Linked DNA regions of Homo sapiens: regions 1 and 2 are each linked to region 3. The links come from fine-mapping of genetic effects on gene expression. A gene starts in region 3. Each other region holds a variant in brackets. All regions are shown on one strand. Distances are between the middles of the regions. Region 1 has its middle 94 kb from the start of STEAP4. Region 2 overlaps ADAM22 (ADAM metallopeptidase domain 22). Region 3 holds the start of SRI (sorcin).

What was found. PIP is the estimated chance that this variant, and not a neighbour inherited with it, causes the effect.
Region 1: its variant is fine-mapped to the expression of SRI in lung (TOPMed, PIP above 0.99).
Region 2: its variant is fine-mapped to the expression of SRI in whole blood (TOPMed, PIP 0.93).

Annotation. Positions count from the first base shown.
Region 1 is chr7:88,395,829-88,406,433 of GRCh38, reverse strand. No RefSeq gene overlaps it. Among named protein-coding and RNA genes, the nearest start is that of STEAP4, 94 kb to the right of the region's middle. The variant C/T (reference allele first, on the strand shown) is at 6,557.
Region 2 is chr7:88,193,416-88,203,747 of GRCh38, reverse strand. It overlaps ADAM22 (ADAM metallopeptidase domain 22), which reads right to left. Exons shown (of 32, transcript NM_001324418.2): 32 at 859-7,277. The coding sequence ends at 7,257. Among named protein-coding and RNA genes, the nearest start is that of SRI-AS1, 18 kb to the left of the region's middle. The variant G/T (reference allele first, on the strand shown) is at 4,859.
Region 3 is chr7:88,214,738-88,225,342 of GRCh38, reverse strand. SRI (sorcin) reads left to right here and starts at 5,305. Exons shown (of 8, transcript NM_003130.4): 1 at 5,305-5,367; 2 at 6,401-6,484; 3 at 8,152-8,221. The coding sequence starts at 5,317. It overlaps SRI-AS1 (SRI antisense RNA 1), which reads right to left and starts at 8,683. Exons shown (of 3, transcript NR_120517.1): 1 at 8,586-8,683; 2 at 6,119-6,594. LOC124901691 (a long non-coding RNA gene) reads left to right here and starts at 8,759. Exons shown (of 2, transcript XR_007060419.1): 1 at 8,759-8,900; 2 at 10,407-10,605. RefSeq lists silencers at 5,083-5,582, 6,230-6,319.

The sequences.
Region 1 (10,605 bases), 180 kb before region 3:
CCTTGTGATTGCTTGAATTGAGCTGACAGTTTTATATATAACAGGAGATACATCCTATGGACCTCTTTTGTTTTGGAATGGTGTATATTAACGTGCTATTAAAAGCATATTGGTACTGACAGAAATGAATAGCTTGAGAGTCACAATTTCTTCTCTTATAATAAACATTAAAAGTTGAGACATACGAAAAAACATTTGGAAATGTGTTATATATACCCATCTTTCCTGCAGGCAAAATGACTAAAAGTACCTTTAAAATGTCATGAGTGGGCCACAATTTACATTTCCAAAAATCATGGATGTTTTCAAGCCTATGATAAACTTTATTTGGACGCTTAAAAAACAGCCCTCTATTCAAACTTTATCAACAATCCAAACTTGAATTTACATGTAGAAAGTTTCCTAATTTAGGAGCATTTTTTAAACGTATTGTTACTGTCTTTAGTCATGTATAAGCTGGAGGGAGAGTGAAAGAAGAGGAATGGATATTTCTAATCACCTAATGTTTTGTGTTTTTATACCAATAACTTATAATATATGAGGAAATAGTATTTCCTGACATAAAATATTTGGACTTTCACACAACATAATTTAGCTAGATCATCCATGCCAAAAGTGGCACAAAGTATCTTTTACTTTTCTTTCTTAGGTTAGTTTTATCAAGGTATAATTTACATACAATAAAATGCAACTACATTATATGTACAAGTTCTATGAGTTTTGATAAACGTGTACAACCATGTAACCAACTAATCAACCCTGCAACCTAGATATAGAGCATTTCCATCCCACCAAAAGCTCATTCATACTCTCTTGCAATCAATCTCCCATTCCCCAGCCCCAGGCTACCACTAATCCACTCTTGTTATAGATTAGTTTTATCTATTCTACAATTTCATATAAATAGAGTCAGACAGCATGTACATTGTATGTCTGGTTACTTCTACTCAACATAATATTGTTAAGATTCATCCATGCTATTGTACGTAATGGTGGTTTATTCCTTTCCATTGGTGAGTGGCCTTCTATTATATGATACACCACAATTTGTTTATCCATTCATCTATCGATAGGCATTTGGGTTGTTACAAGATATTTCTTAGTGGCACATTGTTATTGCTATTAGCACAGCTGTGTGTGCACATACATGTGTGCATGTTGTACTGTAATGTGGTGTGTTTGGGGAGAGTTGGGGGGTGTGTAAAATGTGGTGTGTTTGGTTGTATATATGCTGGAGGGAGAGTGAAAGAAGACTTAATATGCACCAAGCTCTAACATGGTGGTGCCTGGATGATCACCCCTGACTCCCTTCTAAGATGGTCACTGGAGGGCATGACTAGTGAGTCAAAGACCACTAGAGCTTCTTCCCTGCCTCTAACTGGTCTTTCATGAAGACTATTTGAAAGGGAAAAAAGGATAGTTTTCCATAAAGGAATCTCGCCAAGGACCTGAAGATGCTAACAAGGTGGACTGCTGACTCTGGTGAAATTTTGTTTTTTTCTGAGACTCTTCAAAGTGAGAGTTCACAAATTTATTGGGCCTCTGTACTAGTTTCCTAGAGCTGCCATAACAAATTACCACAAACTGGGTGGCTTAAAACAATAGATAGTATTTGTTTTCTATATTAGATAGTATTTATGCATTAGTTCTATAGGACAGAAGTCTAAAATCAAGGTGTTGGCAGGGATGCACTCTCTAGAGGGAGTTCCATTCCTTGCCTCCTTTAACCTGTGGCAGCTGTCCTTAGCTGTGGCTGCAGCCCCCTCTGCTCCAAATTCACCTTATCTTCTCCTCTATGTGTCTCCTCCTCTATGTGTCTGTGTCATCTCCCTTTGCTCCTCTAAGGACATATATGGTGGCATTTAGGGCCCACCCACATAATGCAGAGTTGTCTCCTCATCTCAAGATTTTTAACTTAATGACATCTACAAAGACCCTTTTTCCAAACAAAATAATATCCAAAGTTCCAGGGATCAGGACTTGATAACTTTGGATGAGCATTATTCAACCTGCCACAGCCTCATCCATTCTCTTCTGTCTTGCCCAAGTCCTTGGTCTACCTGAGGCTCAATGTTCTCATATACAAAATATGACAGTATCATATAGTTCTTTATCCATCAACCAGTTAGATTTCAAGTTTACCTGTTTGTAGTCCAAAATGACAGAGAAAGGATTAATCTTGCAGGCATCAATGCATTTCTACAACATGAGAGTATGAGTTTATTCCTTTAAAGTTTTAAATTCAGCTATTTTCTTCTTTGCTGTCATATGTCTTTATTAATTTATTCAATAAATATTTATTCACCAGTCTTTCCCTGGAACACTTTGAGATACTAAACAAAGCCCCTGTCCTTATGGAGCTAATATTCTGAAGAAGAAGACAATCTCTAAGTAAATGTGCTATCAGGCAGTAGAGAAGGATAGGGAAGGAAGAAAAGCCAATAAAAGGGTTTATTACTGAACTAAGTGCTGTAGCACCAGGGGCTCGATTTGACCAGGACTCACAGGAATGATTTAAGAATTGTCTACTAGGCCGGGTGTGGTGGCTCATGTCTGTAATCCCAGCACTTTGGGAAGCCGAGGTGGGCGGATCACGACATCGGGAGTTCAAGACCAGCCTGGCCAACATGGTGAAACCCTGTCTCTACTAAAAATACAAAAATTAGCTGGGTGTGGTGGCAGGAGCCTGTAATCCCAGCTGTTCGGGAGGCTGAGGCAGCAGAATTGCTTGAACCCAGGAGGCAGAGGTTGCAGTGAGCCAAGATCACGCCACTGCACTCCAGCCTGGGTGACAAAACAAGACTCCATCTAGGAAAAAAAAAAAAATAATAATAATAATAATAATAATAATAATAATTGTCTACTGAAAGGACAAGAAGATTTATCCATAGGCTCCTCCCAACATCGGTTGAGGGTTGCCTTCAATACATTAACTTCCCAGTACCCAAGAGGGCTGCATTTGGATGTGGTCTGAGTGAGCTTCTATAACTCCAGAGAAGGCCCTGAAGCAGAATACAATGCACTCTTGAGGGGTGACACTGGTATGTGATAGATGTCTGTGCCTGCACAGAACTGTACACTATGGCTGCAGCTAACATCAAAAGCAGGCCAGGGGGACGTGATGGGGGCACCATCATGCTATAAACACCTTACCAACATTTGCCACATTCTCTCTGTCTTTGCACTTACTGTACATAACACAGTTAATAAAACAGTCATGCGCTGCATAAAGGACCTTTCAGTCAACAATGAACAGCATATATGGTGGTCTCACAAGATTATAATGGGGCTGAAAAATTCCTATCACCTAGTGACATTGTATCCATTATAACATTACAGCATTCTTGGTGACACTGGTGTAAAGAAGCCCATTGTGTTGCCAGTCATATAAAAGTATACTACATACAATTACATATAGTACATAATACTTGATAATAATAAACAACTGTGTTACTGGTTTATGTACTTACTATACTTATTATTAGAAAGTATACTCCTTTTACATATATACATACATATATATGTATGTATATGTGTATATATACATGTATATGCATGTATATACGTGCATATATACATATATACATGTGTATATACATACATGCATGCATGTAGATATACACGTGTATATCTACATGCACATGTATGTATACATATATGCATAGCTACATACACATGTATATACATGCATGTGGATATGCATACACATGTGTATCTGCATACATGTGTGTAGATATGCATGTGCATGTGTATCTACATATACATACGCATGTATATATACATACACATGTAGATATACATACACATGTATACCTACATACATGTATGTATATACGCATGTATATATGTATATACGTGCATATATACATATGTGTATATATGCACATATATACATGCATATATATATACATATATGTATATATACACATACGTGTGTGTGTATGTGTGTGTGTATATGTGTGTGTGTGTGTGTGTATATATATTTGAGACAAAATCTCGCTCTGTCACCCAGGCTGGAGTGCAGTGGTATGATCTCGGCTCACTACAACCTCTGTCTCCTGAGTTCAAGCAATTCTCCTACCTCAGCCTCCCAAGTAGCTGGGATTATAGGTGCCCACCACCACACCCAGCTAATTTGCATTTTTAGTAGAGATGGGGTTTCACCAAGTTAGCCAGGCTGGTCTCGAACTCCTGACCTCAGGTGATCTGCCACCCTTGGCCTCCCAAAGTGCTGAGATTACAGGCATGAGCCTCTGCGCCTAGCCTACTTATATTTTTAAAAAGTTAACTGTAGAACAGCCTCAGTCAGGTCCTTCAGGAGGTATTCCAGAAAAAGACGTTATTATCATAAGAGATGACAGCTCCATGCCTGTTGTTGTCCCTGAAGATCCTCCAGTGGGACAAGACATAGAGGTAGAAGACAGTGTTATCAATGATCCTGACCCTGGGTAGACGTAGGTTAATGTATATGTTTGTGTCTTAATTTTTAACAAAAGTAATTAAAGAAAATTTTAGGAAAAAGGCTTATAGCATAAATATATTTTAAAAGATAATATTTTTGTACAGCTGTACAATGTGTTTGTGTTTTAAGTTATATTATTACAAAACGGTCAAAAAGTTGAAAATTAAAAGTGTATAAACTAGAAAAGTTACAGTAAGTTAAGGTTAATTTATTATTAATTAAAGATAATATTTTTATAAATGTAGTGTAGCTTGAGTGTACAGCATTTATAAAATCTACAGTAGTGTACAGTAATGTCCTAGGCCTTCACTCACCACTCAGTCACTGACTCACTCAGAGAAACTTCAAGTACTGCAAGCTCCATTCATGGTAAGTGCTCCACACAGGCATACTAGCTTTTATTTTCTATACCATATTTTGACTGTACCTTTTCTATGTTTAGATGCACAAATACTTACCATTGTATTACAACTGCCTGCACTATTCAGTACAGTAACAAGTTTGTAGCCTAGGAGCAATAGACTATACCCTCTAGCCTAGGTGTGTGGTAAGCTGTACCATCTAGGTTTGTGTAAGTACCCTCCATGATGTTCGCAATTTGATGAAATGGACTAACGAGGTATTTCTCAGAATGTATAACCATTATTAAGTGAAGCATGACTGTACTTGTGAAATACTTAAAACTAACACAAATGTTATGTATACAATTGATTATGAGCAAACTACAGAGGCCCAGAGCGGCTACCAACCATATGCAACCACTATCGCCATCTGTTGGTAGCAAACAGAATTGATAGATTTTTATTCTGCAGAGGAACTGTATGGATTAGGAAACATTTGTAATCTGAATATACTGAAGCAAAGGAATGTCTGTAATTCTTACTTCACAGAGTTTCTGTGAGGGGTAAATGCTATAATTCACAGGAAAGCACTTTTCTATTATAAAACAATATATAAATGTTAGTTTACAGATTGATGGGAGAGATTTAATCCTCATCTCTGATGCCAGATTAAGTCTTAGTGCATTGTAGCCAGATACCTAGCAGGTAATCTAAAGTTTATGGAATGTTGTTTTTATTTTTTGACTTCTGCTGAAACAGCCTTTCCAGGTTTTCACCTGCTAAGATTCAAAGTCCAGTTCGGCTGTCACCCAAGAATAGAAATCATTTTTTTCCTCACATTCTCTTTGCATTGGCACTAAGAGACCACTTACCACATGAATTCTGGCTAATCATAAACAATTCTCTGGCCTCACTCAATAGTGAACCTCTTGAAAACAAGAACGATACCTGATTCCTCTTTGTATGCCTAGCACGTAGCATTATATTTGGTGTATAGTAGGCATTCGATAAATGTTTGTTGAAATTGTTGAATTAATTTGCTATCAAATAACAACAGCCTCTTTCCTACTTAGCTGTGTCTCACAGCAAGCACCCGGGCCCAGCAGGGTGAAAGAGATGAAGGGAATTCATCTAAAATCAATTTATTTGGGGAGAAAATGTACTGTAGTCAATGAAATGATTCAGTTTCATCTTTTTGTACATAGCTTTAGAGTTGTACATGATCATAATTTCATGTCAACTATCAAGTCCCTTAAGTCATGTGGTGATATATTACTTTTTCATATTAATATATAGTATAACACTGTACAAGCAATATTAACAATTCCGCACGAACTAAATCCTGGCATAGAAAGTGACAGTACTAGCAGTTCACTGGGTAATGGCTAGGTTTTGTGCAGTTTGGAAAAAAAAAAAAAACTCCTACAGATTTATAGATACTTACAAAATGCCTATGTTCATAAAATTATCAATTTTAAGAAAAAGAAAGACATCTCTTCCAAGAGAAAAACAGATGACTCATTTTGAAATCGGTAGGCTCCATTCCAATTAAACAGATTGCAAACCAGAAGACAGCTCAAGATTGTTGTGAGGACTTCATGAGGCCCTTTCCTTTCTTTTCCGAAACTAATGAGAAATACTCAGGATATGTGAAGCCATGAATCAGAAAAATATGCAAACCTGGCTGGGTGATAACTCCCCTGAACTGGATGAACTGGAGAAAGGCCTTATTGAAATGAAGCATCCAAATGGA[C/T]TGGAACAATGCCTCAGTGTGGTTAGTTCAATAGAGCCACGCTATAGATCATGCTTTCTTACCAGGAGATGAAAACAACTGCCAAGTAGGATTCAGAAAACCAAAAAGAAAAAAAAAAAAAAAAAAGCTTTTTTCTCCCTTGAAGTTCAGCAGTGGTTCGCTCCGCACAGATATCTGGGGTTTGACACTAGCTAGTTTACAATACCATTTTAATACAAGCAATATGAATGCTTAAAGAGTTACCCCACCCAGGACAAACCAGCTGGTCTTCTAGTCACTGCTCTCCCACTTCTGTGCCTTTATCTGCCACTTGGAGTCTGAGGTCCTCTGCTAAGGAGAGGGCAATTGCAAAGCCCCTCTGCACTTTGCTCACCATACTCTATCTCCCAAACCCTTCTACAAAATGTGCTAGCCTTGTTCACACCCTCAGCCCCTCAAACCCACAGCTCTCTCCCTGCACATACTATTTTCAAGCTAGTGTCTGGGCTAATATGCCACTGCCTCCAAGGTAACATTTCTTCTGAATAGAGGTTTTTCTGGTGACCATCCTTAGAGGCATTCTAATGGTGAAGACTGCCAGCTCCATGGCAAGCCAATGAGGAAGATACTATCTGACCTCATTAGCACCTCACAGGTCACACCGTAAGCAGCTTATCACTCCCCCTCTCCCAGGGGAAGCCTTCTTTGTCGACCAAAAGAAAAAAAAAAAAAAGAACCATAAAGGTTCTCGGGTCTTGATGACCTTCCAAACGCACTTCGGGTAGCCGCTCGAACAGGAATCCCCGGCTCCTGGTCCCCACGAGTCTCTTTATCACTTTTATCCCACAGTCCTTGTAACCCATTCATAAGAAAACAGTGAAGCAGCTCCTGAAAACTTGGAAATAAGGTTGCAGTCAAGAGCTAGCCAGTAAAATTCACACAATAATTTTGTTTGGGTTTTTGTTTGTTTGCTTTCCACAAAGTAGCATCTGAAATTATTTGGGGACAAAGGATATATACTTCCCTGTTTTCCCAGAAGAATAAAGGAATTTATTTTCTTGTAAATGGAACTATGTGGAAAGTTACCCCACGTTGAAAAATAATAGAGTTGGAAGAGAGTATCTTTTTTTCTCTCCTTGCAATTCCTTTAGGAGCTGTACCTCACTCACAGCCATGATCTGTTCTCTACAGCCATCTATTTATCATTTATCTTCTTTCTCTCCAACTGCTTCTGCTTTCTTCATGTCATCCTTTAAAATTCCTGGAAAATGTTGGACAGGAAACAGACTTCTGGGATTAAGAAGAACAACCATGCTTTTTTATAGAATATTTGCTCAGGCCCAGGATCCCTTCCACAAAAGACTCTGGCTGTCCTTTGCTAGTGGTTAGAAAAATTCTGAGGAGAATATCCACAAACATGTAACTGAAGAGTCTTAAAGTACCCCAGACTCAAACACAGAGAAATAATTATCCTCCAAAGGAAAAGACTATGTAATTGAAGTCTACTAAACTGAAATTAACTGATTGCATTCTAACATCTCAGGAGAAAGACTATAAATAGAAGGCAGAGTCAACATAAACATGAAAGGAAAAAATGAAACCTGAGTAATTCCTGAGACCTTAAGGTGGTACTGTTTACCCAGCACTTTCCAGGTGAGGCTTACTCTGCATGTGACCCAAAGGAGCATATATAGTTACGTGGGTAGTGGAAATGAACTCATCAAGCCTCACTTTTGAATGGCCTGAAATACTCTCTTCCTCTCTGAATTCATGATCCCAAGCATTTTTTGATAAAGTTGAAATTGGTAGGTCCCTCAATACCAGAAAAATCAATGCTCTGGATAAGGGCACCAGCATTCCATCATTGGAAAAAGTTATCACCCCTTGGGTACTAATAAATTACTCATAAGGATTATACATCTTTTCACACGTTTGATTAGTTTCCATCTATTACTGTGATACTCTGTGTCCACCTAGTTCAAAGCCGAAGACCATACCTTGGTAACTTCCTCAACAAACAACAAGGGTTAACGTATAATGTGTCCTTTCCACATACCAGACATTTTCTAAGCAATTTATATGCATTAACATATTTTAGCCTCACAATAATCCTACATGGTAGAAGTAGAAATTATTTTTACCCCCATTTTACAGATGAGGAAAATGGGGAACTTGCTTATGATTATACAGATGGTAGGTGGCAGAGTCTGTGCCCTTAAGCCTTACACAATGCTGCCTTTTAAAGTGGCATGCGCCCTGGAGAGCACGAATTAATTTGCTAGGGCTGCTACGACAAAATGTCATAGATTGGGTGGCTTAAACAACAGACATGTATAGTTCCAGGGATTGGAAAATCCAAAATCAAGGTGCCAACCTATGAGCTTCCTGGTGAGGCCCTCTTGTTCACTTGCAAATGGCCACCTTCTCACTCTATCCTCACATGGCAGACAGAGAGCTCTCTTTCTTCCTCTTCTCATAAAGCCACTAATGCCATCATAAAGGCCCTACCCTCCAAGGCCTCATCTAACCCTAATTACCTCCCAAAGTTCCCATCTCCACATATCATCACACTGAGGGTCAGGGCTTCAATACATTAATTGGATGGGGGTGTGGTGATGGGGACACAATTGAGTCCACAGCAGGGAGAAATGTGAAAACTCCCATGTGATCATAATAGTCATTCAGCACAAACTGTTAAACAAGTGTCTATGCTCTAATCAGCATTGCACACATAATATGAGTTCATCTCCAGGTCTGATTATTCTTGTCATGCAAAAAGCCCATCTCTAGGCTTTTATAATGTTAGGAAAATCCTGTAATTAGTCACCTGAACAAAGTTATTACTGAGTGAAAGTCTGCCTGTACCAAACAGCTTCCCATAGGTGACAGTTGTGGTTTCTAGGGTGAAATCCATCAACCAAACTCTTCAACCCCCTTGTATATTAATAATTAAACACATTTTATTATCTATAAGTGCAAACAGGACATACAAAGTTCTGATGGCAACTTCCAATTTCTGTTCACTAAGGAATTGAGGAGGCCTCTCAGTCACAGTCATCACAAAAATATTGTATTCTCTGCTCAGTTCTATAGTCCTCTTCTTTCAAGTCTGGTGATCATGTGTACCCTATGTAAGTCCTATTTTGATATTTCTAGCATATTGCACAAAATGTTTCATTGTCACTCATGCACTGCTTACAGTAAAATCATTAAGCACTAGGTATTAACCACTGATTCTTACTTTGTTTTCCTCCATCATGTTCTGTGAGACACTGACTTCGTCCTCTACTTGCTAAAGGAAAAGTCTGAATGAGTCAGTGACCTTCCTTTCTCCAAGTAACCTCATACGTTGGGTCTTTGTTCTCTCTGCTATGATAAACATCAGTATTCTTCATATTTTGACAATATCATAGTATTTTTACTCTTTTTGCCAGAAATGTTACTTCCTGTTTAGCATCAAAACTGAAAATACCTTCTTCCACATGGTAAAGCCCCTGAATATTTGCAAGTGACATCATTAGCCAACCCTCTGCCTGTAACACCCACCACCATCCCACATCCTGCCATTAGGGGCAATATGGCTTAATAAATTTCATTACTATATGTGTTAATATAAGTTTTATAAATAAGTTTTCTGTATCTCAAAGAAAATGTGTTAGACTTATTAATAACTTCATTCCTAGTATTGTGAGGCTACTTAGGTATGTGTTCTCACAACAACACATTGTTTTCAGACTTAGTCGAGCAACTTACTTTTGTTTTTTATATGTTTTAATTCACCATTTTTTAAATTTTTCTAGACAGAGCTTTTGATTTCCACATTTCACTTTTCAGTGGTTATCTCTGTTAACTTTCTTCCTGCTTTGGAGTGTAATATTTTGCTACTTCCTCAGGATTCAGCCACAGCACAGATCTGACCTGTCCATCGCCCATGTCTTCCTTTCTGAATCAGCTGTTGTTTCTTAAACTCATCGATTGCATCAATACCCTATTTCTCAAATACATATCTGCAACGTAGCTATATGTCAAGTCTATTTTGTCACTGCCACAATTTGGTCATTTCGCAACTG
Region 2 (10,332 bases), 21 kb after region 3:
TGTGGCTGCTAGAGACCTGGTGCTTCCTGGGGATAGTTGGCGTAGATTTGCACCACAGCAGTCATATTAAATTAAAGCTCTTGCTTCTACTGAGCCAAACTGGAGTTTAGACTGTCCTTCAGCATGATGTTCCAGGTGGTACCATCAAGTCCACGAGCTGGCTGCCATCTGTGAACTAGACTTTGCTTTGGCTCAGCCGAGTTACTGTTTCAGTGTTCATCTAAATGACTTATTATATGACTAAAATATTATAAATGCAAGAAATGGAGCTATGTGTAATCACCATAAACTTTTAAAATCTCATACTAAATGTACAAACCCTTCATCAGTGACTTCCTTCTCTTTTTCTCACATTAAAACAATACCTTGACTACTTATAACTTATTAACTATGCAGCCTATGAACAGATGGCAAGGACCCCGCAAATGCCAGAATAATGACGGGTAGGTAAAATGCCTGCCTGGAAGATGAAAAAGCCAGGGTGGAACAGTTTTTAGGCAATGAACTCATGAGCCCATCCTAGGCTCAGTGCTTTAGAATGCAGCACAGGTGACCTTATTAACTAAGCACCACTGCCTGGTCTACAGGACAGGATATAGGAAATTGATCCTCATTAGGGTGAGAGAGGAAGTGCTTACAAGGAGAGGCAAATAGATAAATAAGTAAACTACCTCTGCCATCCAGATGAGGAAACTGCAACAAATCGAGCACTCAGGCTTTGCTAAAGGGTTGTATTTCTCATCATGTTAGTGACCCCTTCTGGGACACCAGTGAACAGGAAAGAAACAATCCCTTGACTGTACCCCTAACAAAGCTTCTGAAAGAGAAACTAGCTGGGAGAAAAAGAAGAGTCGTGCATCAAAATAACATAAATCTTTTATTGAAAGTCACTTTACTAATGTTACAATGGGAGTAACATAGAAAACCATGGTATCTTATTAGCTTCCGAAGTGAATACTAATAAAACTGTGCCAGAAATTTGAACCTTAAGTTACAGTGACCTTTAAAAACATCAAGATTTTGTTTACCTACAATGTAAGAACAATTTTATAACTTGAACAGCCATAAAACAAATCACACTTGCTCAGGAAAGCAGTTGCCATATACATTTCCATTGGTGTTTGCCATAACCCCAGTAATTATTAAAATAGCTTAACGAACCTGAAGTGCAGAGTAGCAGAGAAATGTTAAAATAATGCGAATCTAAGTATATACACATGATTACCTGATTACCAAAAGTGAAACCATGCTGCTATTAACACCTCCTCATGGGGTGGCTTCCACTATCTATAGATGCACATCACCTGTCAAAGGTGATAACCGTGGAAAACACTAGTGCCGACCTACTGCTGGCTAACATGTAAGCTACTATGTTTAGGTAAAACACCCCGTTTCTGAAAGAAGTTGTCTTTTGGGGGTGCTAGTTTGGAGGGGCAAGTCTTCCAGCAAGTTAAAAAAGGAGTACATGCTTATCTATCCTGAATAAGCCTTTTTTTAAAGCAGTTTTGCAGTTAGTGTAAAAAAAAAAGTTTTCCATACAAAACAAAGGTGTTGAGTCATTTTTGCCCTTTAAAAAGACTGGTTGTAGAATCAGAGTTTGATTTTGTGCTGGATTAGAAAAGAAAAGTGGGGTTTCTAGTCAGGCAGTGATACACATATATAATTTAGCAGGAACTTTTGTATTATTACTAAGTATTCATATCAGCATTTTCTGTATTGTGTTACTTGTTCAACTTAGCACCGCTATATTTAAAGATTGGGGCTATTTGCATTATTTTAGAGCTTAGCCATCCAACACAAATCACAGCCTGAAAATTCATAAAATAAGAGGCTAAGCCCTAAGGTGAATGCAGATCAGAATATTATATATATATAACATTTTTTACAAGAAAGGAAAATACCTTTTCTTCATAAACTCTTTGAAACTTTATTGATGATTCTGTATGTGCATTATCTTAAGAATTCGTCTCATTGTATGCCTTTTTGTAAAACAAAACCAAAAACACACATATTGCCTGGTTTTGATTTCAAGGATACGTAGGAACATGGAATGATGATTACTTGATGAAAAGCCTGCCAGCCTTGAAGCTTCCCCATATGATACAGGTTTTATGAACAGTGCAACAGGGATGCATCAGGCAGGAGTGACTGGCCTATTATGGACTGGACCACAAAGTATTCAGAGTCAACACTCAGTCAATCTGCCAAGCACAGAAGTCTGTCTTAGGCATCCAGCACCTCTCTTCCCACCACACCCCTTGTGACAATGTGTGCTCTCCTGCATATCTGGCCTCAGGAATCTTCCTGTGAATATCCATTCTGTGTCTATGCCAGGACTAAATGCCCCATGGTCTCCCAAAGTTCTCTGCTTCTTATCTCCTCCCCATCCTGAAATTCAGGCTTTTAGGACTCATCTCCCAGTGACTTCCTAAGTTGCATAAGCTGCTAATGTGCCAGTGGGTGAAGATAAAGATGCCTGCCACCTCTACTCCCTAGAGCATCCTAGGGATATAAAGGACAAAAGTACTAATTAGGTTTTTGGTTTTGAATGTTTTGTTTTTCTGCTTACAAACAACCAGAAGTTGCTCCATTTGCGGGACTAACAAAGCAATGAATAAAATGTCAGTAGAAACACTCCTGTTTTCTAAAGTCCTGCTGCATCTTTGTTCTGCATCCGCAGATGTGGGAGAAAAGCTCCTCTTGGAATTAAAAGCACCTCCCCCACAGAGCATATGCTATGAGCATGTGCCAACAATTCCCAGCAGGTGTACTTTTAACAGCGGGGCTACTCACACACAGCTGGGATGGGCTGCTGCCGCTCAGCCAATTTTCACAAGAGCAGACTGGGCCCCTCATTATATTATACTATCAATGGGAAACTGTTTATCAAAGTCCTTAGTTCTTCCATGCCAGGAGAAAAGTTGCTGCATCCAAAACCAGAGTAGTCTTATCCATTCAAAAACATCTCAGGAGGAAAACAAAACATTTGAGCCCCAAATTAAGCCCTATTCCACGGAAGTGTTTACTTCTTATACATCTTAAACTGTAGAGCAAGAATGAGAAATTTATCTTGACTCCATACATTTAACGGAGTGGAAAGGTATTTAGGTGGCAGTTTTAGAAAAAAACATAAAAGTGAAAGGAAAAATATAATTAGGTGCATAAAAAGTAGATATGATGCTGCAAATGGCAGTCAAGTGTTTCATGGAAAATTCATGCCAACTTACCAACTGGTAGGGTGATATTTACAACACGCTGCCCATGTGGGCATCCAGTGGCAGCAGCCAGATGTGTCCTATCAGACTGTGCAGGCAGCTGTCTTGTCCCTCCTCGCTCCTGCCAGTTCCTAACTTGGCTCTCCCCTTCCATATACTCTACAAGCTACTCAATATCCTGCCAATAAATTCTCTTTCCTTTAAGTAAAATAAAGTAAAATAATCTTTTCTTTAGATAAGAATTTATTATTGTGTTAAATAATAACATAAGAAAATATTTAAAGTACTATATATATGGTTAGAACTATACGACAATAGGAAATGAATGGATAAAATGAATAAATGAACAAACCTTATTTTAAAACACTGAAAAAAGTGAATAAAAATACCATATATCTTCTGGTCCGAAGGTAACTGTAAAACATAAAGAACAAAATCCCAAAAAAGGTAACAGGTAAAGTAGCCACAAGAGATCTGGGACAATAGACAGGATTAAATTATGTAGATATGCAAGGGAATCAATAGAAAAGAAATGTAAGCCTGTTATGAAATTCAAACATAAATAGTCCTTCTCTGAAAGTGCAGAGAATATCCAATTTTGTCTTTCTGACAACTTCTTTAGAAATCCTATTAATGTTACTTTCAGAAATTCTATGCCAGACTGACCTTATATACAAACACAATTTTAAAATTCTTTTTAAAGTAACAGGGAAAAGAGAGAGAAACTATGGTATCACTTAATAAAGCACCAATATCAAAGTGAAAAATAAGTTGGCATTTTAAACCCACATTTGCTTTATTCATCAACATTTTTTAAAGGAACAACTCTAATGATAGGTTATTCCTAATCGAAGCTCCGGGTGTCTTGTTAAAAATACAGCAACCACAGCAAATTGAAAGCCCTCACCATGTTGCACTGTCCGATGTATTCCTTTCCACAGATTGCATGTGCCCTGGGGATCATTTCCAGCCTGCAGCGTTCAGAGGACCATGCCACTTCCCATCTAAATAAAGAGTGGCTGGAGGACAGTTCATGTGGCCAGTCCACTCCATAAGGACTCTCTTCTATCCCATGCCTTCCTGTTCACACTTACTGGAGAGACTTAAATGTTCCTTTAAATCAGGGTTTACTGCACTGCAATGACTATGGATAAATGGAACTTCTCAGGCAGCAGGGTGCCAATCTGTAGTCTTATCAATGCATAAAACTGGAAGAGGGGAAAAAGGCATACAATGGAACATAAAGGCCAAATAACTGCTCTCTTCTGCTTAGCAATGATTTTGTAGTGGATTGGGAAATATAAATATTAGTTGCATGATATAAACTGTGATACGGCCTCAAAGTTTCTCTCCAAAATAGATATTTAAAGAGAAATAATGCTGTGCTTGTATATTTAATGCTACCTACCTCGGTGGATGAAAAGTCATAAATATTTAGATGTAATGCCTCTAGAACCCCAACCATGAGTATACATATAGATACTTCTTGAAACTCTCCCTTGAGACTATAAATTTGTCAATGAATCCCACAAATGGCTCTAAGAATGTTTAAACATGGGAGATAGAGTAGATTCCAAGAATAGAACATTAAAGTTACTGTATACCTCAAATCATAATCTCTACAAATAAAACAAAAATTTTTA[G/T]TCAGTTCCACAGGAAGGTTATTACCAAGGCGGGTAATTACAAACTATATACCTCTAGAGAAACCATGTCTCCCAAAAGGCACATGATCATGATTTTCATTTGAAATAATAATTTCATGTAAAAATAGGTGAGGGAAGAAAGACACACAGACGAATGATAGAGATCTGTTAACTTCTCAGCTAGCCATTTGTGGATTCTTTCAAATTAGAGTTTGTGTACCTGTAACTAGGAAGCATATTTACATGAGGCACCTTATATTCAAATCTATAAACTCTTTTATAGTCAAAATAAACCTTATAGCATTAGCCTTTTGTACACTCAGTACCAGGAAACATTCAGTGCACGTTACAGTGATCTTGGTAAAAAGTCACTTTATTTGCTACATCTTTCAATCTGTCTGCCCTTCTGTTCTTGGCTTGAGCTATGTGGCAACACTGCCCAACACTCACCCAAACCTTGGCCTGATGGATCGCTTTATGGTCATATCAACAATCACATCCCTTCCTGTCATGAAAAATGCTGTTTTACATTATGTAATTTTGGATCATTAAATTGCTTTCCAAACATTTCAAAGACTTTCAAAAGAGAGGTCCATTACAGAAGACATAAACACACAGTATAAAATGCTGCCTTCTAACTCGGCCCTTCAGTTTGGGCATGATATGTAATCAAATTGATTACATATGAAGATGATATGGATTTTGTCCATGGATACTATGGGAGAGGATCAAATTTAAGAGAGTATATCTGAAAACCTGTCTGCAGATTCCATTCCTCTTAAGAACACACAGCAAATGAGGAAATCAGAAGTATACTTCAGAGCAGACCATGTGATTGAGCCCATCAATCTCCAGCCTCACTAGGGTAGCTAGCTTTCTTTTGGAATGACAGATCTGCCATTATAACAGCTATCAAACTTTGGTTTTAAAGAAGGGTCTTTTAAAATAGAATCTTATTTTCCTATGGATTAAAAATATATGTTTCAAAGCATCAGATTCTTTCCCCCACCAGCTGTTAGTGTAACTTCGCAGATGCTGCATCTCTGTGGTTTAGATCTAACTTAACCCTTTATGAATGGTTGAAGCTGCTCAACTCAAACAGTAGAATCTTCCGTCATCTTGCTTCAGAGTCAGTGCAGAATGACTTGTTGGGATTCACATCCCAGTGATGACAAATATTCTTAATCAACAGTGTCAAAGTTGTTTTTGTTAAAACAAGTCATTCATTTCACAGATAAGGGTGACTACAAAGTTTTGCCAAGGAACAAAACTTCAGGCCACAAAGGGTTAGAGTATTGGCAAACCAGAAGCTACCAGCTCACTGGCAGTACGTTGTCTCATGTGTCTTTGGTGCACTTGCTTAATCTCAGCAGCACACACTGCTGAGGGGCTGGCTCACTGGGATGAGATGGGATGGACGGATGGGATAGATGATTTCCAGGGAGCAGCCCATCGGCAGCAGAGTGGGCTCCTGCATCAGCAAACTGTGGAGGCCAGAAGTTTTGCTGGGCATTTTGTTCTCTCACTCAACTACTCACTCAATAAAACTGCCTCCAGACTGTGCACAGGTTAAAGGGATATCACATGTTTTGGACAAATACGAATTATGGAGAGACACATTTACAGCATTGACCACTATATTTACATTACCTGCTTATAGTCTTTGAAGATCACTGGATGGATGACGATGATGTGATTGTGACGGAATTTTTAGGCATTTGGCAAAATACACTTGTGTGTAACAGCTGCATTTTTTTAAAATTTTAAAAATGTTACATATATACAATTGTCCTTGTATGCTAATATAAATATGAAAAGTAAAAAACAAAACAAAAATAAAAATACATGTTTAAAGTTAGCCTATGGGATATTGGCCTTTCAAAGCTTTAAAGTCCTGCAGAAAAATCCTATATGCCTTAGCCCTGCATGCTCATTTCTATTATGGGATGTTGTTTCCTTAAATATGGAAAACAATAAACAGAAGCTTCATGCATATAGCATTACTGTTTACAGTGAGGATGTGCCTCAGAACGTCAAGTTCTGAATCCACTATTGTACCTTAGGAAACTTGCTACATTTGGGTCATGTGAGTTAACTTTATGAATATTTCTACATATTATCTGTCATGCGGATTATCCATTAACATACCAGTACCTTTATTGTTCCATGTTATAGTGTAATATTTCAGTAGTTCTTTTCATGGTTAGTTAAATCCTAAGCCAATGACAAAAAGAAAATGGTAACCAGATGTGAAACTCCGCTTCCTCTCCTCTGTAGCATCTCAGAGGGTCTTCGTATTGTCTGAAGAGCAGATAGATTTGCAGTGATTCCATGAGCCTGGGTTTCTATAAAAGTTGAAGTAAACAGTTTTCGATGTATCACATGTAAACAGTTGATCTTAAATGGATGTCTCCCATAGCTGCACAACAGAAAAGAGCAAAATTGCACATTGTGAAAGCAGGAAGCAGATGTATTCTGAATAGGAGATGAAAAAGATTCAGTGATTCCATCCATATATATGTGATTGTGGATGCACACTCTTGCAAAGTCTAAAAAGTGGATAGAATAAACACTCCAACTTTTAGCTCTCTGTTTCCTCAAAACCTGTGTCTCAACCTTTTTAACAGCAGCCATCTTTTGATACAAAAACCATCACATCCTCATTTAATGTTACTAAACATTTTGAATAGAGTCAATATTGTGTCTCAAATGAAATAAAAGAATTTAAAATATTATTTTTTAAGCTACACATGCCCTTCCTTTCCCCAGGATTCTGAGACAGCCAGCTAGAGCAGTGGTTCTCAACCTCAGCTGCACATTACATTAATCTGGGGAGGTTTCTACAATTCCACTTCCCAGGCACCACACCAGACCAACTAAATCAAAATCTCTCTGGGTGGGACTCAGGCGTAAGAATATTTTAAAAGCTTTGCAGATGATTCCCTTGTGCAGCCACGACAGAAAACCACTGACATCAGGGAAGTGTGATTCCATCAATTCCACCATCACCCACTTGAAAATCACTGCCATACACTCCACTTCTATCACTACCTCCTTAAAAAATAGTTCTCTCAGCCGGGCGTGGTGGCTCACGCCTGTAATCCCAGCACTTTGGGAGGCCGAGATGGGCAGATCACGAGGTCAGGAGATCGAGACCATCCTGCATAACACGGTGAAACCCCGTCTTTACTAAAAATACAAAAAAAATTAGCCGGGCGTGGTGGCGGGCACCTGTAGTCCCAGCTACTCGGGAGGCTGAGGCAGGAGAATGGCGTGAACCCGGGAGGCGGAGCTTGCAGTGAGCCGAGATCGCGACATTGCACTATAGCCTGGGCGACTGAGCGAGACTCCATCTCAAATAAAATAAAATAAAATAAAATAAATAAAAGGTTCTCTCTCACAAGCTGAGGTATCACAGTGGAAGGATACATTCAAGGCAGGATGTCCCTTCATTCATTCTGTCCCTCTTACCCTCTCCTTGCTTTTGCCATGAGCTCTTTATATTGGCCCTGTTCCGGTCAAATTTCTACAATGTTCAGCAATCACCTTAATGGACTAATAACAAGTGTGACATGATCAGATATGAATGCAACTCAGTTCACCAGAAAAGGAAGACCAATTTAAAAAGAAGATCAAGCTGATGAAATATGTTTCCAGGCAATAGAATTTAGATATAATTATTATAAACATAAACAAATAAAGCCTATGAACACAGTGACTTAGGTTGTATCCAATTCCATCCAAATTCCATTTTTACTGGACATTTGGTGCATGTCGCTGTATATATAATGAGTTTCTGGGAAAGAAAAAGGAGAAAAAGCCAAGTGAGTAAGTAGATGTTTCTATATAGGTTCCCTTAATATGTTCTCCCAAATCTTCATGGAAATCTTGTTCTGAATGCCCATGTCTGCCTACTCCACAGGACTGTGGTAAAGCCACCATGCTATCTACCTTAGGTCATTTTATATGCCCTTTTTATTGAAAAGACACCAACCCCTTGTAAACCACAGGAATATCTGAACTGTGAGGATCTTCGTGAATGGGTGACACTGGTGGTGGAGAGGAGTTAAATGGGGCTTGTGGTGGGTCTGGAGCAAAGACGATCTGAACTGATGCTCAGATAATGGTCTGGAGGGCTAAAGGGATTAGACTCTGGCCTCAGAGAGCTGAAGTTTCCTCAATATTGTTTTATAAAGATTAAAAATAATATGTGACAGGAGAAAGAAGGGAGGGACAAATGAACAACATTGGGAAAAACCTGAATGTCATGATTACTCCAGTGAGAAAAAATGAGCAATTGCCAAACATCACTTTCAGCACTAGGCATGCCTTGGCCCACGTCTATGTGGTGGTAACAGAGGGGCTGCTGATAGGAAGATCTGCTTGTTCCACTCTCCACAGCCCACAGAGACAGCCCAGAGACAGGGGCTGTGTATTTGGTAGGATTCTGCCACATGCTTATGTGGCTGTTCCACAGTGCATAGAACAAATCAGACTTTTCAGGTAACAATCCCAGCAGCCAGAGCCTTTGTGGTCACCTGCTCAGCCCAGGGCCAGTCATTTTTTCTAGGGAGCTATCATTTTTACAGGCTCTTGTGTGGTAACATCTCCAATAACCCAAACTCTGACATGACAACAGCTGAGGGAATGTCCCTAACTTGATGGAACAAAACAGGGATGCAGACAATTTAGCAGAAAGTGGGTTGCTACACTTAGACAATTATTTGAGGAGGGCAGGAATGACCTCAGTCTCAGATTTCATTATCACACATGACATCATGAACAACTAGGTATCTATCAAGAAGTCTTTTGTTAATTCAGAAAGCTGAGTGCTGGGAATCTGAATTGTCTTGTTATCTTTTACCATTTCTCATATTAACATATAATGGTAATTTTTTATGATTAACAAAACACTGCTGGTAGTTTTTAAAGACTTTTGGATTATAGTGATCTACACAGCTTTTAATTATTTGTGCCTTCTTACTGACTCTGAGTTAAAATTAAAATTTGAATGATCCACGTTTACCTTGAATCACATAATTTAGGTTTGGGATCAAAGAGATTCCGAAACATCTCTGAAGACCAAAGAGTCTAACCAGCAGCTAAAGCTGCCGAGGCTTATAAGCTTTATTTTATTTTTTTGCAACATTATTTCTAAGAAGATGAACATTACAGTGTAAATGACCACAACAGAGCCTGGACATCAATAAAGGTAATTATTCTTTGGTTACATCTTTCACTTAAGTCTCTGAGGACCAGTCTGCCTCTCTAAGCTCCACTGTATCTCGAATTTCACATACTGATATGTTTCAGGAATGTTGTGAGACAGTGGCAGTGTGATTAAAATGTAAAAGGTGATATAGCAAAATACACTGTTTTGTTTACTGTAGGTTTTAATAAATTAGCTACAATAATTAAATATATAGCAATTAATTACACAAAATGTACCTAGACTGTATCAATGCAGATTAAAC
Region 3 (10,605 bases):
TGTGTTTGTAAAAATACACACATATATTTACATATGTACAATGATATACATACATACACATATATGTATATAGGCATATATATTTAGCCATAATAAATTCCTCCAACATCAGCTTCCTGGTTAATCCTGATCATCAACTCCAGCTCAGAGCTTCATTAAGGGAAGGAACAGGTCAGTGAGAATCTATTCTGTAGGAACAGGAACATGGGAACGTTTGTCACAGAGCTGATGACTGCCCTTGCTGTGTTTTGTTAATAACTGATTTATCTTGCTTATCATGCCTATTCCAGGCAAGTAGAATGAGTTTGCTTTCTCTGAGTTCCAGGGAGGAGGAAGCCAACACAGATGAAAGGGTCCCTGTGCTGTTCAAGAGGGTAGCACTAGCCACACAGCTATTCCATTTTAAATTAAACTAAATTAAAATTTTAGTTCCTCATTTCACAGGCTCAATAGCCATATGTGATTAGTTATTGTGTGGCATAGTTATCAAACATTTCTATTGTAGCAGAAGTTGTTTGAAGAGCTGTGGTTGATGATTCATTACCATCTACAATATGCCAGGGACCAGTTAAACTCTACATGCAAGCACTAAAACATCAATAGTGGAAGTTTTCTATCCCTTGAAAAAATTACATAATAGCATGATTAACTGAGCTCTTACTCCGGACAGTTCAAGAAAAAGGGTGGCTTTTATTCCCAAATGAACATCATAGGCTTCACACTCTTTCCCAACAATCTTAAGAAAGTGGAGATACTATTAATTGGTTACCTATGTTGTTATCAAATGCTCATTTCCACTTACATTTGGAGATCTGAGCTTCTCTCTAAGGCAGAGGTCTTTAAATCATGAGGTGCCACACCCAGATCAGAACTAAACAAAAATTGAAACTTTAAATTGGCAAATGTCATTGCTCATTTCTTCCTAACAAGTGAAGACCTATGGTTAATTCAACTGCAGGTATGGTGAAATAACTACAGTTACTTAGTTAGACACTATTTCTTTCACCACTTATCTGAGCGAAGAAGTCCAGGTTGGATACTATATGTAGAGCTTTATATTAACTTTTCTCCAGGAATAAGAAAGTGTCCACACTGCCGTTTGTCTTGAAAACATAATTAGGGAAGGTGTACCACAAAAGAATGGGATTCTCTCTGAGAGCATGTTTATCTACTGTCACAGCTTTAATTGGGAAGGGTGAAATATCTACATCTGGCTAGGTCTGCTCTTCAAGAGCTGGGGCCAGATATTTGCCATCTCTCAGCCTTGGTCTTTTCTTCTGTAAACAGCAGGATTGGAGTATATGATCAGAAAGGTTTCTGTAATTCCAATGACTTCCCAAAATAACCATGACCTGCATCCTATCTATAAACCTCACATAGTTCTCTCCCTAACCCATGCTGTTGTCACAACCCTCCTACAGTCTTTTTTTTAGGACTTAGTAAATCGTTCTGACAAATAACTGTATTCTACCCATAGGCTTTATCTTACAGTCAGCAAATCATTTGCTAAAGTGCTAAACTGCCAGAGTCATAAGCCCGCATTCTGGAGGGGCTTCCAGCAGTGGTTGGTAAACTACTGCCCAAAGGCCAAATCTGACCCACCTCCTATTTCTGTACATCCAAGAGCTCAGAATAATATTTACATTTTTAAATGGTTGGAAAAATAAAATTAAGCATAATATTTCATGTCATATGAAATTCAAATTTCAGTGTCTATAAATAAAGTTGCATTGGAACCCAGCGACATCCATTCATTTATCTATTGTCTATGGATACTTGTGGCCTACACAGCAGAGTTGAGTGGTATTTGGCCATACCACTATGACTACATAGTCTACATACCACTATGTATGTAGACTCTCTCATACAGAGACTGTATGGCCCACAGGCCTAAAATATTTACTACCTGGCCCTTTACCTGCCCCTGGGTGTAGAGCACAGACTCTAGAGTCAGATGGCTTGGCAGCATAGCTCAGCTCTGTTCTGTTCCTTCCCCTTCCTCAAAACTGTATAATAGGAATGACAATAGTACCTATCCCATGGGTTTTTATTAAGATTAAGCAAATAAGTAAAATGCGATGAGGATCTGGCATATTTTTATTATTATATATATGTCTGATGGTATTATAAGTTGCCACAATTTTTTCCAGCAAACTAAAGTATTAGCAGCTGACCAATTTGTTAGCAATAATTGTAAGAATTGAATTTGCAACACTCCATTAAAATTCAATTCTTTGTCAGATGAGTAGGTAGCGAAAATTTTCTCCCATTTTGTAGGTTGCCTGTTCACTCTGATGGTAGTTTCTTTTGCTGTGCAGAAGCTCTTTAGTTTAATTAGATCCCATTTGTCAATTTTGTCTTTTGTTGCCATTGCTTTTGGTGTTTTGGACATGAAGTCCTTGCCCATGCCTATGTCCTGAATGGTAATGCCTAGGTTTTCTTCTAGGGTTTTTATGGTTTTAGGTCTAACGTTTAAATCTTTAATCCATCTTGAATTGATTTTTGTATAAGGTGTAAGGAAGGGATCCAGTTTTAGCTTCCTACATATGGCTAGCCTGTTTTCCCAGCACCATTTATTAAATAGGGAATCCTTTCCCCATTTCTTCTTTTTGTCAGGTTTGTCAAAGATCAGATAGTTGTAGGTATGCGGCGTTATTTCTGAGGGCTTTGTTCTGTTCCATTGATCTATATCTCTGTTTTGGTACCAGTACCATGCTGTTTTGGTTACTGTAGCCTTGTAGTATAGTTTGAGGGCTAATATCCAGAATCTACAGTGAACTCAAACAAATTTACAAGAAAAAAACAAACAACCCCATCAAAAAGTGGGCGAAGGACATGAACAGACACTTCTCAAAAGAAGACATTTATGCAGCCAAAAAACACATGAAAAAATGCTCATCATCACTGGCCATCAGAGAAATGCAAATCAAAACCACTATGAGATACCATCTCACACCAGTTAGAATGGCAATCATTAAAAAGTCAGGAAACAACAGGTGCTGGAGAGGATGTGGAGAAATAGGAACACTTTTACACTGTTGGTGGGACTGTAAACTAGTTCAACCATTGTGGAAGTCAGTGTGGCGATTCCTCAGGGATCTAGAACTAGAATTACCATTTGACCCGCCATCCCATTACTGGGTATATACCCAAAGGACTATAAATCATGCTGCTATAAAGACACATGCACACGTATGTTTATTGCGGCATTATTCACAATAGCAAAGACTTGGAACCAACCCAAATGTCCAACAATGATAGACTGGATTAAGAAAATGTGGCACATATACACCATGGAATACTATGCAGCCATAAAAAATGATGAGTTCATGTCCTTTGTAGGGACATGGATGAAATTGGAAATCATCATTCTCAGTAAACTATCGCAAGACCAAAAAACCAAACACCGCATATTCTCACTCATAGGTGGGAACTGAACGATGAGATCACATGGACACAGGAAGGGGAATATCACACTCTAGGGACTGTGGTGGGGTGGGGGGAGGGGAGAGGGATAGCATTGGGAGATATACCTAATGCTAGATGACGAGTTAGTGGGTGCAGCGCACCAGCATGGCACATGTATACATATGTAACCAACCTGCACAATGTTCACATGTACCCTAAAACTTAAAGTGTAATTAAAAAAAAAATTCAATTCTTTAGCAGTAAAGCAGTGGGAAGATGTCTAAGGACAACTGATATGCCAATTCGTATAGCCGTTTATCCACGAAGCTAATTCTGCAGTACTTAAAAATATTTTATATGCTTTATACTTCTTTCAAACTTGAGTCTTGAGCTTGTACTCAACATCGAGTTCGGCCCTGACATCTACTCTTTATAGTCGGTTACCTCTTTCTGAAGAAACAGGCTTCCAAAGAGAGACCAGGGGACTCATTAGATGTCTCATCTACCTTGATGATTGCTACCTTGATGATTGAAAACAGTAACCTGCTTCCTGAATCAAACACAAAACAGGCAACATGCAGTGTCTTTGCTATGCCACAACAGGGACTATTAGAATTTTTCTCACAATTCGGACTTTGGTTTTCAAAAGGGCTTGCGAGGGAAGTTACACACAAGAGAAAAACAATGAACCGAATGAGGACAATAGCCCACGAATTTAGAATGGAGGAAGCCCGTCCACCACAGCGAAAAAGCACAGTACCACATTGGCGGGTGCTCCAATATTTGTGAAATGTTGATGACCCTTTAAATGTTTCTGTGCAACCTCCACAACAAATACTGTGAATCTTGCTTATTAATGCGTTTCTCAATACGTTAAAATTCAGGAAATCATTAAGTCTAGTCCTTAACAGTGAAGGGCAAGCAATTTTCTGTCATTGAAATTACACAAAACAAAACAAAAAGCTCACGCCTGAATTGCTTCGGACTATTCAACTGGAAGATAGAAAAATATATGAAGTAAAGAAGAATAACCTACATAGAAGTTCCTATCTCTTATCTTCCTGAATACTTACCAGTACACTATTAGTTTGTTCTAAACTTTTCTTATATAAAAAGTAGCTGAATACTTTTAGGGAAATGGATTGTTTTGTCTGAATCATCCAGATAATTCAAACAATTCATTTTCCTAAGAACGATATGTGTGAGTCTGTCCTGCCCGGAAAATGCCCTCTGTCCTACTCAGGACACAAGTCACGCTCAGCTTAAACAGGCAAGGAATTGTCCCCTAGGAAGGAAATACGCCGTTGTCGTTCAGTGAACTCTGCAACCAACAGCAAGCCAAACTCTCCCTTGCACACAGTTCGTCAAGTTAATTCTTATTTTCCAAGGGCGCTTTCGTATTTCCATCTTTCAAAGACTCCTTCACCCACTGGCACCTAAGGCTTGCCCTAACGCATCCAGCCCCTGCCTCGCGATGGTGCGCTCCGCTTATAATAGCTCCGTCCTGTCCAATAAAGTTGTTTAAAATAAGAAATGTGCCAGATAATAGCCAAGTCCGAAGGAAAAAAAAAAAAAAAGAATTCCTGGGGTGGTGTATTGGTGTTGGAATGTGCCATTAGTTTTGGAGGGAGGAAAGTCCCTGGTGTGAATTGCCTCGCAGGTCGTAGGCCGCCACTGGACCTTCAGTCGTGCACTGCATTAGCGCCGTAATGGCAAAGATACGAAGAAGCGCGCAGGCAGGGGAGCCACGGCCGCGCGCACAGGCAAGAGCTGGAGACGACTGCGGAGCGCGTCCCCCACGCCCGCGTGGTGCGCTCTGGGGCGGCCCCCTAGCGGCAGGGCGGGGCGGGGCAGGGGGCGGAGAGGCCTGGCGCACAGGGCGAGGGCGGCTGCGGCGCAGTCTGCAGCATGGCGTACCCGGGGCATCCTGGCGCCGGCGGCGGGTACTACCCAGGCGGGGTAAGTGCTGACTGCGCGGGATCGCGGCCCAGGCGGCTCCGGGGCGCTAAGAGGCCACCTTGGAGATGCTGCGGCCAGCGGGGTGAGGCGCTGCTGGGCGGCTACCCGGGCTCCTTCCGCCCTCGGCTTCTCCCTGCGCTCGCGGCCTCGCCCTAGGCCCCTGGGGTTCGGCCTCTCCCCACGTTTCCCCGTCCCTTCTCCTGGATGGCCCTGCGGGGCCAAGGTGAGGGTGGATTGGGACCCTAGAAGCCCACCCTGCGGCTTCTCGGATACGCGGCGTGAAATCGTGTTAATTGGGTGTTGGCTGACCCCCACCCCACCCCACCCCCGCCTTCTTGGTTGCCTCCCAGAGCAACAACAGTCATTTTATTCTAGAATGATATACCTTCCTCCCTTTAAAAAACAAACAAACAAACAAACAAACAAACAAACAAAAAACGAGTGAGAAGGGGGACGGAAAAAAAGGGAAAACCTGCTGAAGTAAAAGACCTGTAGGAAGGCAGCCTCGCCGGGCGTCTGGGATGCGCGTTGTCTTGGGAACTGTTTCCGAGACAGGCAATGTTCCCTCGCCACCCACGAGATACAGCCCGGCCGGACACCTTACTCTTCCCTAGGCTACACCCGTCTCAGAATGTTACCAACTCCAGCCTTCCATCGTTCATAAAACGCTCTTAAAATACCATAAATGCTGTAACAACAAAAGGAGAATTTGAAGCCCTGCCATTCGTTGGCTTACCTAGTTTGCACTCACCTCAGTAACCTTCAGGTTAATAGGGATTTTAAAAGTTGCTTTACATATGTAGACATCACTTTCACAGCAACTCTTTATGGTCTAAGTCGCCAGTTTTTAAATTACGGGGTGTGAATGGAAGAGAGGGGTGGAGTGTTGGCAGAGTGTGCCCGGTGGTGGGGAGGTGAGCCTTGTGAAGGGCGGGCAGGCGGGCAGTTGTCTGGCCTTGCACAAAAGCCCTCAGTGGTGAAAGAAGAAAACTTGATTCGGCAGAATGACGTGTATGTGTTTCCTGTTTCACAGTATGGAGGGGCTCCCGGAGGGCCTGCGTTTCCCGGACAAACTCAGGATCCGCTGTATGGTTACTTTGCTGCTGTAGCTGGACAGGTTAGCTTTTCCCTTTAATATTAAAGAGCCGTTATTGTCTGCATTTGTGGTAGCTTTTGATATAGTGACACAGAAAAGCGAACTTCCTGTGGTACTGAGTCCCTTTGCTTCTGCAAAAGAAAAAAAAAGTTGTTTCTTATTTTAGTTTTTTATTTCTGAATGTTCAGAATAAATGAGGACAAAGTGTTACTCGTATTTATGTGAGTTCAGTTCGAAAGCAAACTTGTGGTTGAATTAAAGGGTCCAGGATGGTTTCAAGCGAAAAAATTCAAGATCTGGTAAATATAAACGCTTGTTTGTACAACTTAAAGACATATATTAGTAATTACATAGCTCGATTCTAATGGGCACTTTCTTTGGGTTGAACTTGATTGCTAATCATTCACCCCCTTAGGAAATATGGTAAAAACCCACCAGCTTCTAAATAAGGAAGTTACTGTTCCCTTCTTAGTATCAGAAAGTTAATCTTGTGAACAGTGTAGTTTCTCTTTGATGCAGATGCTGTTACTAGGTCAGCCCCTCCATGTCCTTATTAGGTGTTCTGGCCTGTTGACCCAGAGAAGCAATTAAGGTCAGCTCCCCAAGACCTTTCACTTGTCTGCATTCTGAGTTGTATGACAGGTGCTATCTTACATTGACAGGTGCTATCTTACATTGAGAGAGGACACTTCCCTAGTTCATGAGGTCACTGTGTGCAGTAAATATACTGTTGGTATAACCCAGACACGTCCAGAGGAGATGTTTGTTCTTATGAATTCAACCTAGTTTTGTTTTGACCAAAAGCTAGAAATAGCAAAATCTTAATGTGAAAACTGTAGAATATTATGGGATAAAAAACCTAAGACCACTTTTAAGGTAGTACTCTAAGAAATACAGCTTAAGAAATTGAATGGAAAATATAGTCTAAAACTGGAAGACCTTCCCCTTAAGTATCTACTTAAACTGTTAATGATCTGTATCTTTGAAACCACAAGGCATGGCAAACCTCAAGACTAGCATTCTTAGATTGCCAGTGCCTCCAGCATGTAAGTGACTCCACCTGCTTAGCTTTCAGCAGCCCTGGCCTGTATTCAGCATACCCATTGTCTTTCAAATTGCTGATCTTGCTCCTCATTTATAACTTATAATACCCAGTGACTTGAAGATTTAGGTATTTTATTTTAAAGTCCCTAAAAATCACATATATCTAGTTCTTTCCCAGTTCAGCCAGTGAATGGGCACTGGGAACCTAATGTGAATCTTCCAGATGTATTTGTGCTCTGAAAAAAATGATTCACTATATCATAAGAAAAAGTGACCAAGGAGGCCTTTTTCTGTTTGAACCAAGCCTTCTATTTATTGATGTCTGCTTTGTACCTTGCTCTCTCCACCCCCATCAAAAAAAAATATTTTAAAATGTTTAGCTGTAGCAGTTTGCTAGCTCAGATTGAGAGAAGAGTAGTTGCCAAGACAGACTCTTTCTTTCATCATTAAATTACTTTTGGAAGTGGGTTAAGGAAAAGAATGCCCACTTTTGGAAGGCATTCCTTTTAATAAAAAAAAGGCATTCCTTTTAAATAAAAAAAAGATACTGATTTTCTTTGTTGTTATTGCTTCATTGAATGCTGAAGGTAAACAACTTGAAAGTACAAATCACTATTATGATTCCTCTAATTTTTTTTCAAAAGGATGGGCAGATAGATGCTGATGAATTGCAGAGATGTCTGACACAGTCTGGCATTGCTGGAGGATACAAACGTAAGTTGACAGTCCCAAAGTTTGTCTAAATATACTCTTGTGTTTCCTATCTTAGCTGTTACTTGTGATTACAGCCTTCAAGAAAACTGAGCTTGTCGGATCTAGCAAAGTTTAGAATTCCGAAAGCTAAAATACAGTACTATTTCAAAATGTTGATTTGAAAACAGTTTTTAAATCACTCCAGGCTGGGCACAGTGGCTCACACCTGTAATCCCAGTACTTCAGAGGCCCAGGCAGGAGGATCGCTTGAAGCCAAGAGTTTTTGGCTGCAGTAATCTATGATTGTACCACTGCACTCCAGCCTGAGCAACAGAGCAAGACCTTGTCTTTAAAATAATAATAATAATAAATTATTCCATCCTACCTGCCAATCTAGTGGATTTCTCAGATTTGGGTTTTGTGTACCTAGAACCAGTGAGACAGTTTGGGTGGCCTCCTTCACAGAGGACAAGGTAGGGTGCTGAAATGGAATCTGCCAGGTCAGGGGTCATTAACTGACATTAGGAACTGATATTTACTGTTATTTGCCAAGAGCCTACTCTGCCCTGACCTGGTGGCACTTAGGGCTTTGAGTTGCTGCCCTGCACCCCTGGTCCCTGAGTGGCCTATCCTGCACTCCTGGTCTCTGAGCTTTGGGCATGCTCCTGCTAACATAAGTGGTTGCCATGACATCCCTCAGGTCTTTCCTCTTCCACTTCATAGAATGTATTCAGGCTAAGTGGGAAGTGGCCTTTCTACTTACTGGACCTGCTGCTCCATAATTCAGCCCTTACCCTACCCCTGCCTTTTGAACACTCTGCCATGAGCTGAGAGTAATGAAATACTGCAAAGATGCTCCATCCCTGGCAGGGCACAGTGGCTCACACCTGTAATCCCAGCACTTTAGGAGACTGAGGTGGGAGGATTGCTTGAGCCCGGGAGTTCAAGACTAGCCTGGGCAACATAGTGAAACCTTGTCTCTGCAAAAAATTTAAAAATTAGCCAGGCATGGTGGCATGCACCTGTGGTCCCAGCTACTCAGGAGGCTGAGGTGGGAGGATTATACAAGCCCAGGAGGCGGAGGTTGCAGTGAGCCAAGATTGTGCCACTGCACTCCAGCCTGGGTGACAGCCTGTCTCAGAAAATCCAAAAAATTGCTGCATCCCAACTGGGGGCTTCTCATCATCCAACACATATGAAGTGGTTCCTCTTGAAATTAGATCTTGAACATGATAGATTTCCAGGGTAGAGAATAATGTCTTAGTTCAAATACATTACCAACTTCTTTGCCAGTTGTTAATTGAGACAAAACATCAAATTGAAGACCCAATTTCATGGTTAGCTGTGGATTAAAATGTTCAAACTAGAATTCACAGCTGTGAATTTATAGTGGCCTTTTTTTAAAAACTATTTGACATGGCATGTATTAGATGGCTGTCTTTGAACTCTTTGCATTTGTTTTCATTATCCTTTGTTTTATGTGACTTTAGTATCCTATTACTCTTTCCTAATTAGAGGAATTAATACAAACGAAGAACCTTTCAAGTTCCTGTTATTTAATCTAGTCCTAAACAAAATAAGCACTTTTTGGATTAGGGGATGTTATTCTTTACTGTGTAGGCAGTACATTTAAATTGTTAATTGTTACGCAATTGAGCTGGTAAACAAGGTAGGCCTGCCTATTAGCAGGGTTTATCAAAGTGCAGTGAGATCACAGCATGGCCTGTTATTCTACATCCTTTCAGTAGATGAGGTGTGGCAGATTTTAGAATCTGACTAACAAAATGGGTTGTATATTGTTAGAGAGCAGTCCTTTTAAAATTTCATTGAGAAAGCCACATTTAGTGATGGCCTTAGATCAATGCATTAAAGAGAAAGCATTTCCTGAATCATGGGGCCTATGTGATTGAATCCATTTGCCTACTCTCTGGTGGCCGTACTGAACCACAGAACCATCCTGCCTATGAGGTGTCAGTGTTTTGTAATGCAGATATTATATGGCCATTAGTCTTTTAAACCCAACTTCCAAACCAAAAAGCACAGGTCCGAATTGGATGAGCAGGTGGGATACTCCAGCTCAGAGCCTATGGGCCCTTCTTAACCAGTTTAAAAGGAAGCAGTCATACCTAGAGGTGGAGTTGGTGAGAGAAGTTGTGTTCCAGTCAGTAAGATTGTAATTCAGCTTCTCTTTTTTCCCTGAATTTAGTTGTTCGTCTGTGATAAGGTTGAGAGAAACAGCTGGAGGTAGGGCTTTCCTTCTAGGTCCATTATATTGTATGTTTCTGTGAGAAGAAAAGATGTTTGAGGCATTCTAGTAGAATGAACAGAAGAGAAGAAAAAGAGTAAAGGTAAATTACAGCAGAGATTCTTTGGAAATTATTAAAATTAACATTATTTAATTTAAA